Regions from separate parts of the Homo sapiens genome. Here region 1 is linked to region 2. Evidence: fine-mapped expression QTL. A gene starts in region 2. The other region holds a variant in brackets. All regions are shown on one strand. Distances are from middle to middle.

The links.
Region 1: its variant is fine-mapped to the expression of MAD2L2 in whole blood (INTERVAL, PIP above 0.99).

What each region holds. Positions count from the first base shown.
Region 1 is chr1:11,714,753-11,723,906 of GRCh38, reverse strand. DRAXIN (dorsal inhibitory axon guidance protein) reads right to left here. Exons shown (of 7, transcript NM_198545.4): 6 at 8,699-8,788; 7 at 1-4,323. The coding sequence ends at 4,211. Among named protein-coding and RNA genes, the nearest start is that of AGTRAP, 17 kb to the left of the region's middle. RefSeq lists an enhancer at 4,094-4,163. The variant G/A (reference allele first, on the strand shown) is at 4,202.
Region 2 is chr1:11,677,888-11,686,930 of GRCh38, reverse strand. It overlaps MAD2L2 (mitotic arrest deficient 2 like 2), which reads left to right and starts at 5,783. Exons shown (of 9, transcript NM_006341.4): 1 at 5,783-5,892; 2 at 6,318-6,369; 3 at 6,460-6,578. The coding sequence starts at 6,330. It also overlaps a transcript of DRAXIN not described here. RefSeq lists enhancers at 1,787-2,287, 3,237-3,818 and silencers at 5,442-5,961, 6,402-6,461.

The DNA of each region.
Region 1 (9,154 bases), 37 kb before region 2:
ATTCTGCGTTCACAGGCCAGGCATGCTGGCTCATGCCTGTAATCCCAGCACTTTGGGAGGCTGAGACGGGGGGATCACCTGAGGTCAGGAGTTTGAGACCAGCCTGGCCAACATGGTGAAACCCCATCTCTACTAAAAATACAAACAGTAACCGGGCGTGGTGATGCTTGCCTATAATCCCAGGTACGCGAGAGGCTGAGGCGGGAGAATCACTTGTACCCAGGAGGCAGAGGTCGCAGTGAGCCGAGATCGTGCCACTGCACTCCAGCCTGGGCAACAAGAGTGAAACTCTGTCTCAAAAGAAAAAAAAAAAAAAAGAAGTATGCATTCACTACTCACAACAACCCTATGAAGGGAGAGTTATTATTCCCATTTTACAGATGAAAAAATCAAGGCACAGAGACCTTAAGAAACTTTCCTAAGGTTGCCAAAGCTGTGAGAGGTGGAATAGGTGGATTTAACACCAGCCACACTGCTACAGATGGAAGGGGAGAGCAGAGACTCTCCGCCCCAGCTGCACCTGAAGTTACCTGGGAGAAAAACTATGAAGCCCAGACCAAACAAAACAGAAGCTTTGTGGGTGGGCCCCAGGCCTGTGAATGTTCCTGGATTATTGCAACGTGCAGCCAGCGTTGAGAGTGAGCAGGCTTGAGCAGGGGTTGGCAAACCGTGACCCTCAGGCCAAATCTGCCCCACTGCCTGGTTTTGCGCAGTTGGCAAGCAAAGAGCAGTTTTTGCACTTTTAAATGGTTTTAGAAAATTAAACTAATAATATTTTATGGCCAGGTGCGGTGGCTCACACCTGTAATCCCAGCATTTTGGGAGGCTGAGGCGGGCGGATCACCTGAGGTCAGAAGTTTGAGACCAGCCTGGCCAACATGGTAAAACCTTATCTCTACTAAAAATACAAAAATTAACCAGGTGTGGTGGCACATGCCTGTAGTCACAGCTACTTGGGAGGCTGAGGCAGGAGAATTGCTTGAACCTGGGATGAAGAGGTTGCAGTGAGCTGAGACTGAGCCACTGCATTCCAGCCTGGGCAGCAGAGCAAAACTCCATCTCCAAAAAAAAAAAAAAGGAAAGAGAGAATAATATTTTGTGACATGTGAAAAGTATACAGAATTCACATGTGTGTCCAGAAATAGTTTTCCTGGAGCATAGCCATGAATTCATTTACACACTCTCTGTGGCTGCTTCGAGCTACGGCAGAGCTGAGTAGCTGGTGGAGATCAGATGGCTTGCAAATCCTAAAATGTTTATTTGGCTCCTCACAGTAAAAGTTTGCTAAACCCTGGATTAGAGGAAACTGGCTTCTGTATGAGCAAAATAAATTTAAGATAGACCTAAGGAAGAACTTCCTGGCAGAGAGGTTGGTTAGACACTTGAGAGGGCTTTGGGATTCCCAGCTCTGGAGTTAAGAGGTTCCATCCACCCATCCCTCTTTGGAAATGTCAAATAGAGATAGCTAGGGCAAAGAGACGGGCCTTGAATTTCCAACCATGGAACTACCCTGGCAACCAGTGGCAGTTCTATGGGCATTTTAGCTTTGTCCTGACCCTCTGTGTTCTCCATGGCTGATGTCCTAGGACCATCTAACAGCTGTCCCCCAGCCATAGTAATGCTGGGCTTTCTTCCGGCGGTACTCCTTAGGGTTCTAGCCCCACAGAGCCAGCACAGTCCCGAGTCACCACTTAATGTGAGGCACACACAGCATGTGTGGGTTGTCTGGTCTCAAGTACGAAGCTGCTGGCAGATCTGCCTTTTTACATTTTTAAGTGTTTTATATTTTTGGAGTCTCACTCTGTCGCCCAGGCTGGAGTGCAATGGCGTGATCTTGGCTCACCGCAACCTCCGCCTCCTGGGTTCAAGTGATTCTCCCGCCTGAGCCTCCTGAGTAGCTGGGATTACAGGCACCTGCCACCATGCCTGGCTAATTTTTGTATTTTTAGTAGAGATGGGGTTTCACCATGTTGGTCAGGCTGTTCTCGAACGCCTTACTTCAAGTGATCTGCCTACCTCGGCCTCCCAGAGTGCTGGGATGTCAGACATGAGCCCTCGTGCCCAGCCTTAATTTTTGTATATTTGGTAGAGACCGGGTTTTGCCATGTTGGCCAGGCTGGTCTCAAACTCCTGACCTGAGGTGGTCCGCCCACCTCAGCCTCCCAAAGTGCTGGGATTACAGGCATGAGCCATTGTGTCTAGCCATATCTGCCTTTCAGCTAGCCTGCTTTGATCTCCCAGTTCCCCTGCCCTCCCTGCTCCCTCCCCACAAGGTTCCCATGCCCATCAAACTTGGATAGGGAGAGAACAAGCATATTTAATTTCTTCTAGATCTGCCTGCTTTCCTTGGTGCCTGACCCCTGACCCCGACTGATTTTTCCAACGCAGTAAACATCTCTGGCATCTTATGGGCGTGATCCAGGCCAGTGAGGAATTTGGCCAGGAAAGTCTTTTGTCATTTGCAACCTGGTTCGCCCTGGAACAGAGGGTTGGCCAGGAGTGAGATGCCAAGTGGGGGGATTTAAATGGTTCTCCTGAAGTGACCCCTGAAGCCAGATCTGCTGGGACAGATGTCCTGGGTGGGCATTGTGAGTCTGGCCTGTTAGGGGCAGTTAGCTTCAGATAGCACCTCAATTTCAGGTGAGCCTCAACTTCCCAGTGGGCTCTGCTGCAAAAATGTGGGGTGGGGTTCCAGGGATGGTTTTGTGGTCCTGGAAATCACTAAACAGTATGCAAAGTGGGTAAACATGGGCAATATGTGTGGGGTTTTTTTGGATTCCATGCTTGCATCAGAACCCCTGGGGGGGAAGTGCTCCAGAAAACTGTAAAGTGCCTGTCCAGGACTGGATGATCAGGACCACAGGGACATAAAGGCCAACATGATTCTTTTCCCCAAACACTTCTTATCCCAGGATATCAGCTACTAGACCACAGGGATCAACCTGCCCAACTTATTCCTGCAAGCAAGTATGTGCTTAAGTTGTATTTTGTTTTGTTTTTAAACATGATACACCTTTATCCAGGGAAGGCAGAGAACAGTCAAGTTATTCCAGCCACAGAGGAAGGGAATACCAGGGTGTGAGCCTCTCTTGCCAAAAGCCTTAGAGAATCTGGAAGAAATTCTTGGCTGTGGAGCAGCAAGAACGTGGGCCTTGGAGCTGGACAGCCTTGGCCCAGGTTCATGTCCTTGCTCTGCCATGTACTTCCCAGGACCTCTCAGTGGGTCCCTGGGCCAGCAGCCTCGCGTTCCCTGGGAGCTTGTTAGAGCACAGAGCCCACTGAGTCAGATGTGCTTTTTTTTTTTTTTTTTTTTGAGATGGAGTTTCACTCTTGTCCCCCAGGCTGGAGTGCAGTGGCACGATCTCTGCTCACTGCAACCTCTGCCTCCCAAGTTCAAGCGATTCTGGTGCCTCAGCCTCCGAGTAGCTGGGATTACAGGTGTGCACCACCGCGCCTGGCCTAATTTTTGTATTTTTAATAGAGACGGGGTTTCCCCATGTTGGCCAGGCTGGTCTCGAACTCCTGACCTCAGGTGAGCCACCCGCCTTGGCCTCCCAAAGTGCTGGGATTACAAGCGTGAGCCGCCGCGCCCGGCCAGATGTACATTTTTAACTGGACCTCCAGGTGACTCTTAGCATGTTCAGGTTTGAGGAGCACTGACCTGGGACCCTGGGCAAGTCGAGTCAAATAACTCCAGCGTGCCTCACGGTCCTCAACCTGTCGCATGGTGATAATGCCTACTTGAAAAGGTCGTTGTGATAATTCAATGAGATAATGTATTCCAGCACTTAGCACAGTGCCTGGTACATAGGAGATGTTCCATATTCATCTCCTGATGGTGGACCTTCTTTCGGGAAGTTTAAATTTCTTTTCCACTCTCAAAAACGCCTCTTGGTTTTGAACTTGAAGCTGTTGCAGTGCTGGAGTCGGACAGTAGAGGGCACTCTCGGCATTGCCATCGCGGAGAGCAAGACACGCGGGATGGAGGCTGCGTGGGTCCGGACTTCGTGTGTGCAGGTGCTGCGGGCCGGCTCCTGGGCACCCACCCAGCTCATTCGCCGAGCGGCTCCCCTCCTGGGGTTGAGTGTCCTGGGCCTGAGTCTGCAGCCTCAGCCATCTGTTCCCCAACTTGATCTCCCACTGCTAGTTACAAACAAATCGCCCGGCTTGTGCAAACCTCCTGGGCTCAGTCCCCAGTCCC[G/A]CGGGGCCGCTAGACGTTGATGAAGGATCCCTGGTCGCCGTTGGCCGTCTCGGGCTCCACACAGCGCCCTTTCCTCCGTGTAACCCTGCGGTTCCGGTGGAATTTGGCATAGCAGCGCAGCCCTGGGCGAGTGGAGGCAAGGGGGGTCAGAGGCGCGAAGGGCCCGTGCCCTCCCCTTCCTTCCCCTGCACGCTCGGGGCCAGCCAGCTCCCTCCTGCCTTCATTATTCTGCCCTACAACCCAGCTTCCTCACGGCAGCCCCAATGAGCTTAAAAGACACGAACCCGGAAGAGGGGAGGAATGAACACGGAAGGAGAACAGAGAAGACTCAGGGCGGTCGGGGCGGTGAACATATTCTGTGTGACACGTAATGGTGGGACATGGCATGCATTTGTCAAAACCCACAGAATGCACCGCACAGTGAACTATAACTTACGTTGACTTCAGTTAGTAATAATAATACATCACTATTGGTTTGTCAAGCAACAAATGTACCAAGAGAGGCCGGGCACGGTGGCTCACGCCTATAATCCCAGCGCTTTGTAAGGCCGAGGCAGGTGGATCACTTGAGGTCAGGAGTTTGAGACCAGCCTGGCCAACATGGTGAAACCCCGTCTCTACTTAAAAAAATACAAAAACTACCCGGGCATGGTGGTGGGTGCCTGTAATCCCCGTTACTTGGGAGGCTGAGGCAGGAGAATCACATGAACCCGGGAGGTGGAGCTTGCAGTGAGCCAAGATCATGCCACTGCACTCCAGCTGGGGCGACAGAGCTAGACTCCCTCTCAGAAAACAAACAAACAAACAAACAAACAAACAAATCTACCACATGATTGCAAGATGTTATTAATAGGAGAAACTGCATGCAGGGGCAAAGCAGGTATATGAGAACCACATTCTGTGAAATTTTTCTAGAAAACTGCTCTAAAAATAAAGTCCACAGGGTACGGTGGCTCACACCCGTAATCCCAGCACTTTGAGAGGCTGAGGTGGGAGGATCGCTTGAGCCCAGTAGTTCCAGACCAGCCTAAGCAACATAGGGAGACCCTATCTCTACAAAAAATGTAAAAATTAGCCAGGCATTGTGGCATACACCTGTAGTCCCAACTATAGGAAGGAGGGGCTAACATGAGAGGATCCTTTGAGCCCAGGAGTTCCAGGCTGCAGTGCGCCTTGGTTGCACCACTGTAGTTCAGCCTGGGTAACAGAGTGAGACTCTGTCTCAAAAAAATTAAAAAATAAAATACACAGATAAATTCAATTAAAAAGTCTATAATCTTGAAAATTGGAAAGGAAAAAGGTTATTAAATTTTTTTTTAAGTGGCTCAAATTCTGCCCTTCCCTGTAAAACATCCTATGGAGAGCCATTGCTTTTTTTTTTTTTTTTTTTGAGATGGAGTTTTGCTCTTGTCACCCAGGCTGGAGTGCAGCGGCACCATCTTGGCTTATGAAACCTCTGCCTCCTGGGTTCAAGTGATTCTCCTGCCTCAGCCTCTCGAGTAGCTGGGATTACAGGCATGCGCCACCACACCCAGCTAATTTTGTATTTTTTTTTTTTTTTTTTAGCAGAGATGGGGTTTCACCATGTTGGCCAGGCTGGTCTTGAACTCCTGGCCTCAAGTGATCTGCCCACCTCCGCCTCCCAAAGTGATGGGATTACAGGCATGAGCCACCGTGCCGGGCCTCCCTTTTTTTTTTTTTTTTTGAGACAGGGTCTTGCTCTGTTGCCTGGACTGGAGTGCAGTGGCATGGCAAGATCTCGGCTCACTGCAATCTCTGCCTCCTGGGCTCAAGTGATCCTCCCCACTTCAGCCTCCCAAGTAGCTGGTACTATGGGTGTGCGCCACCACACCCGGCTAATTTTTTTTTTTTTTTTTGTATTTTTGGTAGAGACAGTGTCTCTCTACCTTGCCAAGGCTGGTCTCCAACTCCGGGCTCAAGGATCCACCTGCCTTGGCCTCCCAAAATGCTGGGATTACAGGCATGAACCACCCCGCCTGGCCTCCAATGCCCACTTCTGTCTACCCTTTCTTTTTTTTTTTTTGAGACGGAGTCTCTCTCTGTTGCCCAGGCTGGAGTGCAGAGGCACGATCTCAGCTCACTGCAACCTCCGCCTCCTGGTTTCAAGAGATTCTCCTGCCTCAGCCTCCTGAGTAGCTGGGATTACAGGTGCGCGTCACCACACCCGGCTAATTTTTGTATTTTTAGTAGAGATGGGATTTCACCATGTTGGTCAGGCTGGTCTCAAACTCCTGACCTCATGATCTGCCCGCCTTGGCCTCCCAAAGTGCTGAGATTACAGGCATGAACCACTCCCCTGGCCTCCAATGCCCACTTCTGTCTACCCTTTCTAAAACAACTGTAGGACTCATTATCATATTATTATCTTTATAGCCCTTATTACTTACTTTTTTTTTCTTTTTGAGACAGAGTCTCACTCAGTCACCCAGGCTGGAGTGCAATGGCAGGATCTCGGCTCACTGCAATCTCTGCCTCCCGGGTTCAAGCGATTCTCATGCCTCAGGCTCCCGAGTAGCTGGAATTACAGGCAAGTGCCACCATGCCCATCTAATTTTTGTATTTTTAGTAGAGACAGGGTTTCACCATGTTGGCCAGGCTGGTCTCACTCCTGACCTCAAGTGATCCTCCTGCCTCGGCCTCCCAAAGTGCTAGGATTACAGGCATGAGCCACCATGCTCGGCCATAGCCCTTATTATTTTCTAAAGACATACTATCTATGTATTTGATTGTTGTCTGCTCATATCACTAGAATGTAATTCATGGGCACAGAACTTGCTGGTTCTTTTCACTACTGAACCCCCCAGTGTCCAGAGCAATGTCTGATACGCAGTAGGTGCTCCCTAAATATTTAACTGATTAGATGAGTGAATAATCAGAACTACATAGCTTTATTGCCGAGGCGGGAGGATCCCTTGAGCCCGGGAGTTAAAGCTACAGAGAGCTGGGATTGCGCCACTGCACTCCAGCCTGGGTGACAGAGTGAAACCCTGTCTCAAAAAATAATTAAATTAAATTTAAAAGTCCACAATTTTAAAAATTGGGAAGAAAAAGATGTATTATCATCATTTTTAAGACAGGGTCTCGCTCCATCATCCAGGCCGGAGTGCAGTGGCACGATCATGGTAGATAACTCTCTGAGGCTAATATGAGCAAAACGGGGCATGTATCTCAGGTCCACAGAGGGGCTGAGCCCCAATTCCCCCATCCAGGAGATGTGTGAATGCTGATTTGATATTGGATGGAACTGATTAATTATCGTTCATGTTTGGCATTTTGTTTTTAAAAGAGTACTTGTCTTTCAGAGGTACACACTAAAATATTCACAGGTGAAATACCTGTAAGCTCCCAGGAGTTGCTTAGAAATCATGTCGGAATAAGGAAAGTGTGTGAGAGATGATAGACACAGATTGGCCGTGAGTTGGTATTGAAGCAGAGTGATGAGAAATGGGCGCTCATTAGACTATTCTAACTACTTTAGTATATATTTGAAACTTTGCAGAATACAAAATTGAAACTGGCTGGGTGTGGTGGCTCATGCCTGTAATCCCAGAACTTTGGGAGGCCAAGACAGGTGGATCGCTTGAGGTCAGGAGTTTGAAACCAGCCTAGGGAACATGGCAAAACTCTGCCTCTACCAGAAATACAAAAATTAGCTGGGCTGGTGGCATGCGCCTGTAGTCAGAGCTACCTGCAGGGCTGGGATGGGAGGATCACCTAAGCCTGGGAAGCAGAGGTTGCAGTGAGCCAAAACTGCACTGCTGCACTCCAGCCTGGGTGACAGAGTAAAACCTGTCAAAACAAAACAAAAACCTGAAACTATTCCCCCCACTTTCCTGGCTGTGTAAGTTTGGGCATCATTAAGCTTTCTGTGCCCCAGTTGGCTTATTTGTACAGTGCGGATCATCATAGCTCCTTTCTAGGGGTGGTCATGGGGATTTCAGTAGAAAAGTGCTCAGCACAGAGCCCAGCACACTTAGGCGAGGTGGGGGCACGGAGGAGTTGAAGAGGCAGCTGGGCAAGTGCATCCTTCCCTGGGACATGCTGGGAAACCCACCCCCACCCCATTATCACACTTCAATGCCTCCTCTGGGATAGAATTCTGGTGTGAAAGCGGCAGCCTTCTGAGGCTGGATCTAATTTAAAGAGATGTGCTCCTGTCTCCTCCCTTCTCCCTCTTCCAGATAGTGGGAGATTGTGCCAGCTTGTATTTCAAAAGTTGAGAAAAGCAAATCTCAGAAATGATGCCAAGAATCAGGACTAAATGAGTTCACAGATTGGGAAGGCACTGATAAAGCTGTTCTTGCTCACGTCTTCGGCTCCCGAGGGATTCTCCCACCTACACCCCCGCCGCAGGCCCATGATCCACCCTCTGCCAGGAAAGCTTGTTCCCCACTCGGTGCAGAAGCCGCTTCGAGAAAGGGAGGCTTTGTGGTTCTCAGAGCATGGGTAGCCCCCCGCAAAGGAGTCTGGACCCACCTTCCACACACATGCAGTCATCGAAGCATTTGTTGTTGAGGCCTCGGTTGTGGGGTGTGCAGAGATGCTCCCGCAGGTCGCAGCAAGTCCCTGCCAACACAGAGAGCACACGCAGTCAGCCAAGCTGAGCCGCCCCTCCCCGCAGCCCTGCACTCGGTCCCACTGGACAAGAGATCCATCATCTCTGTGGCAGGCCGCGCCCTGGCGGGGTGGGCCATCTGGTGTGCAAGGCTCCTGAGTGGAACCACAGGGAGATGTCATGGCCGAGGCCCCCAAGGGTCGGTGGCAGAGACCCCAGCTGCCTCAGATGGGGTACTGATTGACCATGGGAAGAGCGAAGGTGGTGTGAGGTCTCCTCCCAGACAGAGCCAGTAGAACAGCTGGGGGCTGCCAGGTGTGGAGTCAGCTCAGAGCTGGGAGGGGCCTCAGGATCCCCAAAACCAATGTCCTCTTTTG
Region 2 (9,043 bases):
GTAGCGATGTACAACATTGTAACTATACTAAAAATCACTGAATTGTACCCAGGGAAAATGTGAACTTTATGGTTTGTGAATTATATCTCCACAGAGAAGTTTTTTTTTTTTTTTTTTTTTTTTAAAGTGGCAGTTGAGCTGGATCAAAAGTTCTTACCTTGTGGCCCAGGATGGCTTCTGAATATATCTGGACACTCCTGATGTTGTGTAAGGCATTTAGTGTCTCTGGGCCGGGCGCAGTGGCTCAAGCCTGTAATCCCAACACTTTGGCAGGTGGAGGCGGGCACATCACTTGGGGTCAGGAGTTCGAGGCCAGCCTGGCCAACATGGCGAAACCCCGTCTGTACTAAAAGTACAAAAAAATTAGCTAGGCGCGGTGGCTTATGCCAGTAATCCCAGAGCTTTGGGAGGCTGAAGCAGGAACTCTGGAGGCCAAATGTTCAAGACCAGCCTGGGTAACACAGCGAGACCCTGTCTCTATGAAAAAAGAGCAGATGATCAGTAAGGTCCCCCTGACCACTGAGGGGTCAGCAACACTGGGAATCAGTAGAACCCCACGGAGGGAATGGCAGGTGAGGGCTTTGCTCTGGCTGAAGTGTCGGAAGCCATCTCAGGTCAGCAGTGAACCCTGGGATCTGGGACAGCTGTCCAGGTCAGGCCTCACACCAGAAGGCAGATGAGAGCGGAGAGGAGCTGTCAGCAGGAAGTCCTTGTCTTTAGGCATCTTGTTCCGTGATGATGCGTGTCCTCCCTAGGGCACCTTGGGAGTTGCCTGCTGCCTTGGGAAATGGAAATGGAGCTATGGGGATGCCGCTAAGGATGGTTTGGATGGGGTTTTGAAAAGTGTGACAGCTTGTCCAGAGGGTTTGTTCTGGGGGCTTAAATAGTGTATATAGACCTTAATATCATTGTCATAACAGTCATTAATTGAGCATTTATGTGCCAGGCATTGTGCACTTTATTTATTTGTTTATTTTTTGAGACAGGGTCTCACTTTATAACCCAGGTTGGAGTGCAGTGGTACAAACATGGCTCACTGCAGCGTTGATTTCCTGGGCTCAAGTGATCCTCCCACCTCAGCCCCCTAAGTAGCTGGGAATACAGGTGCACGCCACCATGCTCAGCTAATTTTTATATTTTTTGTAGAGTTTTTGCCATGTTGCCCAGGCTGGTCTCGAAGTCCTGAGCTCAAGTGGTCCGTCCACCTTGGCCTCCCAAAAAGCTGGGATTATAGGCGTGAGCCACCATGCCTGGCATTGTGCACTTTATATTTTTTATAAACATGAACATGGACATAAACATTTGCTCTTTGCTCAATCCTATGAAATTAGAACTACCATTATGCCATTTTACAGATGAGCAAACTGAGGTTCAGAGAAAGAAGGGCCTCGCAGCTGGTTAAGGGGCAGTGTTGGGGAGAGAAGCAGCAGGTTGGACACATGAGCAGGCCCAGTGGGTGCTGGGGACACCATAGGGAACATGCCACAGCCCTTGCTTTTGTTTTTGAAAATAGCTTTTCTCTGCATAGTGCCACCCATAGCCCGGGCACTGAAGTCGACGTGTTTTGCTCCTCATCCAGACTCAGTTGGGATTCAAGTCAGGCAAGTGGTAATGAGCCACTGTCCACCATCACTTCATTCCTCTGCCATTCATTCTTTCATTCACTCATTTGACACACATTTGCTGAGAACCTGAATTCGGGCTGGGCATGGTGGCTCAAGCCTGTAATCTCAGCATTTTGCGAGGGTGAGAGGCAGGAGGATCACTTGAGCCCAGGAGTTCGAGACCAGCCTAGGCAACATGGGGAGACCCTGCCTCTGCAAAAAATTTGAAAAATCAGCCAGGTGTGGTGGTGCACACCTGTAATCCTAGCTACTCAAGAGGCTGAGGTAGGAGGATCCCTTGAGCCCAGGAGTTTCAGGCTGCAGTGAGCTATGATTGCCCCACTGCACTCTAGCCTGGGTGACAAGGAGAGACCCTGTCTCTGGGAAAAAAAAAAAAAGAGAGAGAGAGAGAGAACCTGAATTTGGCCAGGCACTATATTGAAATAATGAATGAGGGCTGGGTCCCTGCCCCGGAGCATTGCAACTGGATGGGCCCCTGAGCGTCAGGATATCAGGAGATTGTCACCAGGCTATGTGTGTCTCACTCTGTATGTCCCCCATACCCATGTGATTGGTGTCCTGGGAACCTTAGGCAGGGTGGGAGAGCTGATTCATTCTGCCATCAGCCTGGTGGGGATGGGAGGGGTCTTGGAATCATTTCTGGGGTCTGGAAACTTCATTGCCCGGTTCACTCACTGTGGGTTTGTTCCATAAACCCCAGCAGTCCTCCTCTGCCCGAGCAGGTCTTCCTCTTTGCTGGGCTGGTGCTCACAGCTCACCTTCTCAGTTTCCATTTCAGTGTCTCTTGGGAGTGATTTTCCCTCCGTCCCCATCAGAGATCCTCAGGGACCTGCTCTAGTTGGCAAATAAACTCTTGCTCCCCCTAAACACCCATCCTTCCTTCCCAGCCGCCCTCCTACATATTGTCATTATGGTGAAAAATATGCAAATAACTTTGAACAACAGTCTCCCAGCAGACGGATGTTCAAAAATGTAATAAATTAACCCCATAATGTAATCTGGATCCCACAACCATCCATCATGCTGATGCGATTAAGATATGCAAAACCAGATGCTGAAGAGCGCATGGATGGAGTGTTGGCAGAGCTCCCCGGATGGGCCCATGCTGACTCGGCCCCCTGCCCCTGCCCCCGCCCCCATGGAACCTGAGGCCATCAGAGGTTTAGGGAACATCTATCTGGCCTGTTCATTTCACTAATGAGACTGAAGCCTTTTAGGGGTTTGGGGTCAGATGGGTTTGAATCCCTCCCCATCTGCTTCCTAACCCACCTTCCTTCTGTTTGTGATTGGATCTGAACCCAAGGCCCCAAACCCAGACTTTTTTTGTTTTTTTGAGATGGAGTTCTCGCTCTTGTTGCCCAGGCTGGAGTGCAATGGTGCGATCTTGGCTCACCACAACCTCCGCCTCCCGGGTTCAAGTGACTGTCCTGCCTCAGCCTCCTGAGTAGCTGGGATTACAGGCATGCGCCACCACACCTGGCTAATTTTGTATTTTTAGTAGAGATGGGGTTTCTCCATGTTGGTCAGGTTGATCTCAAACTCCTGACCTCAGGTGATCCACCAGCCTCAGCCTCCCAAAGTGCTGGGATTACAGGCGTGAGCCACCCACCGTGCCCAGCTGACGTTTTTTTTTAATTGCAATAATTTTTGGTTACATGGGTAAGTTATTTAGTGGTGACTGCTGAGATTTTGGTGCATCCATCACCTCAGCAGTGTACACTGTACCCAGTATGTAGTCTTTTGTCCCTCACCTTCCCACCCTTCCCTCACCTTCCCACCCTTCCTTCCCCCCGAGTCCCCAAAGTCCAATATATCATTCCTATGCCTTTGCATCCTCATAGGTTAACTCCCACTTACAAGTGAGAACATATGATATTTGCAAACCCAGATATTTTTATCCACAGGTTTCTAGTTGACAGGGTGGGTACTCCAGTGTCAAGAGCTGTTGGGACCTCAGTTTCCCCAAGGAAAAATGACAGTTGAGTTTATGTCCTCCAAGGTTTTTCTGACGTTCTTAGCTCTGTGTGTCAGGAGTTCTACGGGTGGCTCGTATTGTGTTTTCTCAGGGCAGAGGGCTGGGGCTGGGAGCTCATGGAGGGAGGGCCTGACTTGAGCCCCAATGCCCCTCACACTGTGTCCTGAAGGCCATCCCACAGGAGTCACTTGGCTCTCAGTTTCCCCACCCCAGGCCCCAGTCTGAAGGGCTCCTTTGCAAGGAGTTGCCCCCTATGACTGCCACTGCCTGTCACCAATGCAAAAGCTGCTTAAGCAGCCTCCAGAGAGGGAAAGGAAAGACCCTTGCTTTTCCCAAGTTCTGCAATGAGTCAGTCTCAAGGAGCCACGGAACTCTGTGTATAAGCCAGTGAGTTGCTTGGCCAGCTCTGTGTGGAAATGGCATGATGTGTGCAGGATCCCCATATCTTGAGAATGGTTGCTGTGCCCAGAATGTGCTGCCAAGTGCACCAGTTCCTAAAACAAAATCATCCATCCCTTTGGATGGATGATTTTACATCACAATTTTACAAAATGCATCGCATTTTTACAAAATGAAGATATTCTCTGGGAACAGTCCAAACCTCTGTGGTGATTCCCACACTTTGCTGGGCATCCGGGCCCCTGGGGAGCTTGTTAAAGGGCCAGTGCCCTGCTGTGCACCCCACCTCGATCAGGTTGCTCTAGGCAGCAGGGCAGCTGTGATTAATGGGCTCCTGGGGGATTCTGATGCAGATTTCCTAGGACTGCATTTGAAGAAATGTTTTGCTGACATTCCTAGCTTAATGGGTTACTTACAGGTTACTTTTTCTCTCCCCATTAGAAGTCTGGAAATGCAGGTTTGAAGGCATCAGGGGGCGGGGGGAGGGATCCAGGTCTTCTATAATGAGCTGTAAACGATAAACAAGTCTGGCTAGATCTGTGTCCAAACAGACGGATGGGACTAACAAGCTCTTACGTCCCTGGAGGTCACAGACAAAGTCCTCTTGGCTTCTGGTCCTGACTTGTTGCCCACTAACTCCGTAGCTGCTTCTCAGATCTTAGTTTTCTCACTTGTAAAATAAGGGGGCTGTAAATAAGTGGAAGCCCTGGTGTCAGAAGAGGCATCAGAGCTGGGTTTGTATTCCCACTGTGTGATTTTGGCGAATTAGAGAACGTTTCTGGGCCTGTTTAACCATCTGTAAAGTGGGGCTATAAAATGGAGACTTAGCTGCTAGGGTTAATGAGAGAATTAACGGAATCAGTGTTTGACACATAAGAAGTGCTCGATGTTAGTCATTATTTTTTATTATTTTAGTAATATCATCTCTGAGGGCCCTTACAGGACTTCCAGACCGAGTCCACGCCCCTGGGGGACTTGGGAGCAGTAAAATGTAGTGGCAGGAGGCACCTCGGCCATCGCCCACCCCACCAGCTGGGAGACTCGGGCAGGTTATTCACCCTTCTGCACCTCGCTTGACTTATCTGTATAAAGAGAACAGTCACAGTAACTGCCTCATGGAGTTACTCCCAGGACTGAGATAATCCACGGACACACTTAGCCCAGTGCCCAGCACTCGGCTGGAGCTCCAAAAAGGTCAGCTATTGTTATGAAGCGTAGGGCGGGGAGGGTTCATCCTCTTGGGCGGTCAGGCCAGGCTGCATTTAGGTACCCGGTGGGGGCGGAGCAGGGGCGACGCCGGTGCACGCCCTCTTTTTTTTATTTTTAAAATTTCACCCGGGCCTTGACAACCGGTACAATCCTGTCCTCCCCTGTTCCCGCCCCCGAGCCAGAGGATTCGCTTTTGCGTGGGCAGCTGCAGGGATGGTGACTCGGGCTAGCTCAGATGTGGCTGCCGTTAGTCCCCAGCTGCGCGCTCCCCCGTCCCTCCCCAGCCCTCTTCCGGCGCCTGCTAAAGCGAGAGAAATGCCCTCGGGGGAAGATATGTAGCGATCCAATGGAACGTGGAGATCAACGTTGTGTTTTCTTCGCGCCCACCCGAAGTTGAAGGGAGGTGGCGCGGCGGGTCTCAGCCCCTCCCGGACGCCGAGGCCCGGCCCCCGCCCCTCGGAGACCCGCCCCCGCATGCGGAACCGCCCTCTGCGAGGCCCGGTTTGGGCCGTGCGGGAATGGGCGTGGCCTGGGCGGGGCGGGCGCTAGGACCCACCGGAGCGCCGTGAACGTCACCGAGCGGCGCCGAGGCCCCGGGTTGAGCGGGAGGCGCGATCGGTCCGGTCGGTGGCTCCCCGCGGCGGGGCCGGGCCCGATCTCGGGCGGGAACCGAGCGCAGAGCCGGTACTGGGGGAGGGGAGAGGGGGCGGGATTCCCGCCGGGAGGGATCCGGCGTAGCAGGGGGCGGAGTCTTATTCCAACCCCGCTTCGCTTTCCGCATGTCCCGCTTTGCGCTCCCGGCCCTGGGCATCCCGCTGTTTCCCTCTGCGTCCGCGGCCCTGCCCTTTTCGGGGGCACAGCTGTGGTCTTTCCACCCCGCGAGACAGCGGGGCGAGGGGGCGCGGGCGGCCAGTGGATAGAGGCTGATGCCCCCAAGCACGGACGCCAGCGTGGGGGTGGAGGTTCTTCCAGCTGCCCTGAGCCTGTGCGAAGCGGGAGGTCCTTCCCCAGTTCCCACAGACTGTGGGGAGGGAAGAGACGGTGGAAGCGAGCGGGTTCTGGGCTCCTGGGTCTCTGGAACTACCCTCTGCCCTTGCCCCAACACTCAGGTAGCGGGAAGGATGACCACGCTCACACGACAAGACCTCAACTTTGGCCAAGGTAGGGAGGCTGGACCTGCGGGCCCGGGGGCGGGGGCGTCTGGGCCGGCGGGCTTCCTCGAGCGCGCCACCGGCTTGTGCCCCCCTGCAGTGGTGGCCGATGTGCTCTGCGAGTTCCTGGAGGTGGCTGTGCATCTCATCCTCTACGTGCGCGAGGTCTACCCCGTGGGCATCTTCCAGAAACGCAAGAAGTACAACGTGCCGGTCCAGGTGAGGCACGTCCCAGAACCACAGAGTGGGTACAGGGTGGACTTTTAAAAATTCTTTGGTCGGGCGCCGTGGCTCACGCCTGTAATCCTAGCACTTTGGGAGGCCGAGGCGGGCGGATCACCTGAGGTCAGGAGTTCGAGACCAGCCTGACAAACATGGTGAAACCCCGTCTCTACTAAAAATACAAAAATTAGCCGGGCGTGGTGGCCAAGGCCTGTAATCCCAGCTACTCAGGAGGCTGAGGCAGGAGAATCCCTTGAACCCAGGAGGCGGAGGTTGCAGTGAGCCGAAATTGTGCCACTGCATTCCAGCCTGGGTGACAAGAGCGAAACTCCGTCTCAAAAAAAAAAAAAAAAAAAAAAAAAAACCTCTTCCACTTCGGGCCAAGCCACCTCATTCCGCAGGGCCCTGCCCATGCCTTCCAATGCCTTCCAGTTCCAAAGTGGTGATGCCTACCCACCCCTCAGAAGAGAGTTCCCCTTGCCAGAAGTTAGGGACCAGGCCTGATAAGAGTTACCCCGGGGGTGGCCGGGCATGGTGGCTCACACCTGTAATCCCAGCACTTTGGGAGGCTGAGGCGGGCGAATCACAAGGTCAGGAGTTCAAGAAACCAGCCTGACCAACATGATGAGATCCTGTCTCTACTAAAAATACAAAAATTAGCCTGGTGTGGTGGTACGCGCCTGTAATCCCAGTTACTAGGGAGGCTGAGGCAGGAGACTCGCTTGAACCCGGGATGCAGAGGTTGAAGTAAGCCCAGATCGTGCCACTGCACTCCAGCCTGGGCGACAGAGCAAGACTATGTCTCCAAAAAAAAAAGTTACCCTGGGGGCATGGTGGCACTTTGAAGGAGCTCGTGAAGCTGGTGAACCTTGGTGTGAGGAGGGTATTTCCAAAAACCTCCAAATCTTCTCCCTACCATTTATCCTAAACTCAATGGGTTAAGGCTAAAAGGCAGACAAAGCAGTGTGCATCGCACTGTAGCTCCAGTCCCTAGAAGTGCCTGTCTCTGGAAGGCACTCAGGAAACATGAGAATAAGTGGTAGAAGCTCAAAGGACATCCAGGTGGTCCCCGCTTCAAGTCCCCACACCACCATTGTTTTCTCACTTCCAGTATGGTATTCAAGACATTACTTGAGGTAGTCAGCACTTTATTTTTTATTTTATATTTTATTTTATTTTATTTTTTGAGACTGAGTCTCGCTCTGTCGCCCTGGCTGGAGTGCAGTGGCGTGATCTTGGCTCACTGCAACCTCCACCTCCTGGGTTCAAGTGATTCTCCTGCCTCAGCCTCCCGAGTAGCTGGGATTACAGGCGTGTGCCACCACATCTGGCTAATTTTTGTATTTTTAGTAGAGACAAGGTTTCGCCGTGTTGGCCAGGCTGGTCTCGATCTCCTGACCTCTGGTGATCCACCTGCCTTGGCCTCCCAAAGTGCTGGGATTACAGGCGTGAGCACTTTATTATGAAACAGGTTTTGTGTTAGATAATGTTGCCCAACTGTGGGCTAATGTGTTTTGAGTGTGTTTAGGTAGGCCTGGCTAAGCTATGATGTTCTGTATGTTATGTGTATTAACTGCATTTTCCGCTGGCGATATTTGATTGGTTTATCCAAACATAAACCCATAGTAAGTTGAAGGTCACCTTTAGAGGGGAAAGGAAAAAACAATTGACATTTACTCACTTCTTCTTTATGATGAAGTGATTGAAGCCCAGAGAAGTTAAGGAATTTGCCTGAGGCCACACAGTTCCTTAGTTCTTAACTTTTGACATCTGATTACATTTTCCTGGATCCTTTTTCTGGAAAAATGCCCAAGTGCACAAAGATACAACTTTAGGGATTTTTCAGACTCTGGAGGAGTCCATGGACCCCACATTAAGAACCCCTAATGGTATATTAAATGCTCATATTGGGATTGAGTTCTTATCTTTCTTTTCCTTTGAGATGGAGTCTTGCTTTGTTGCCCAAGCTGGAGTGCAGTGGCTTGATCTCAGCTCACTGCAACCTCCGCCTCCCAGGTTCAAGTGATTCTCCTGCCTCAGCCTCCCAAGTAGCTGGGATTACAGGTGCCACCTCACCTGGCTAATTTTTGTATTTTTAGTAGAGATGGGGTTTTGCCATTTTGGCCAGGCTGGTCTCAAACTCCTGACCTCAGGTGATCCACCCACCTCATCCTCTCAAAGTGCTGGGATTAGAGGAGTGAGCCACTGTGCCCAGCCTGAGTTCTTATCTTCTAACTTCTTTCTCTATGGATAAGTTCACAGTTCTTAGCCTCTGGTTTTTTTTTTTTTTTTTGAGATGGAGTCTCGCTCTGTTGCCCATGTTGCAGTGCAGTGGCGTGATCTCGGCTCACTGCAACCTCCGCCTCCCGGGTTCAAGCGATTCTTTTGCCTTAGCCTGCCAAGTAGCTGGGACTAAGGTGCCTGCCACCATGCCCGGCTAATTTTTGTATTTTTAGTAGAGA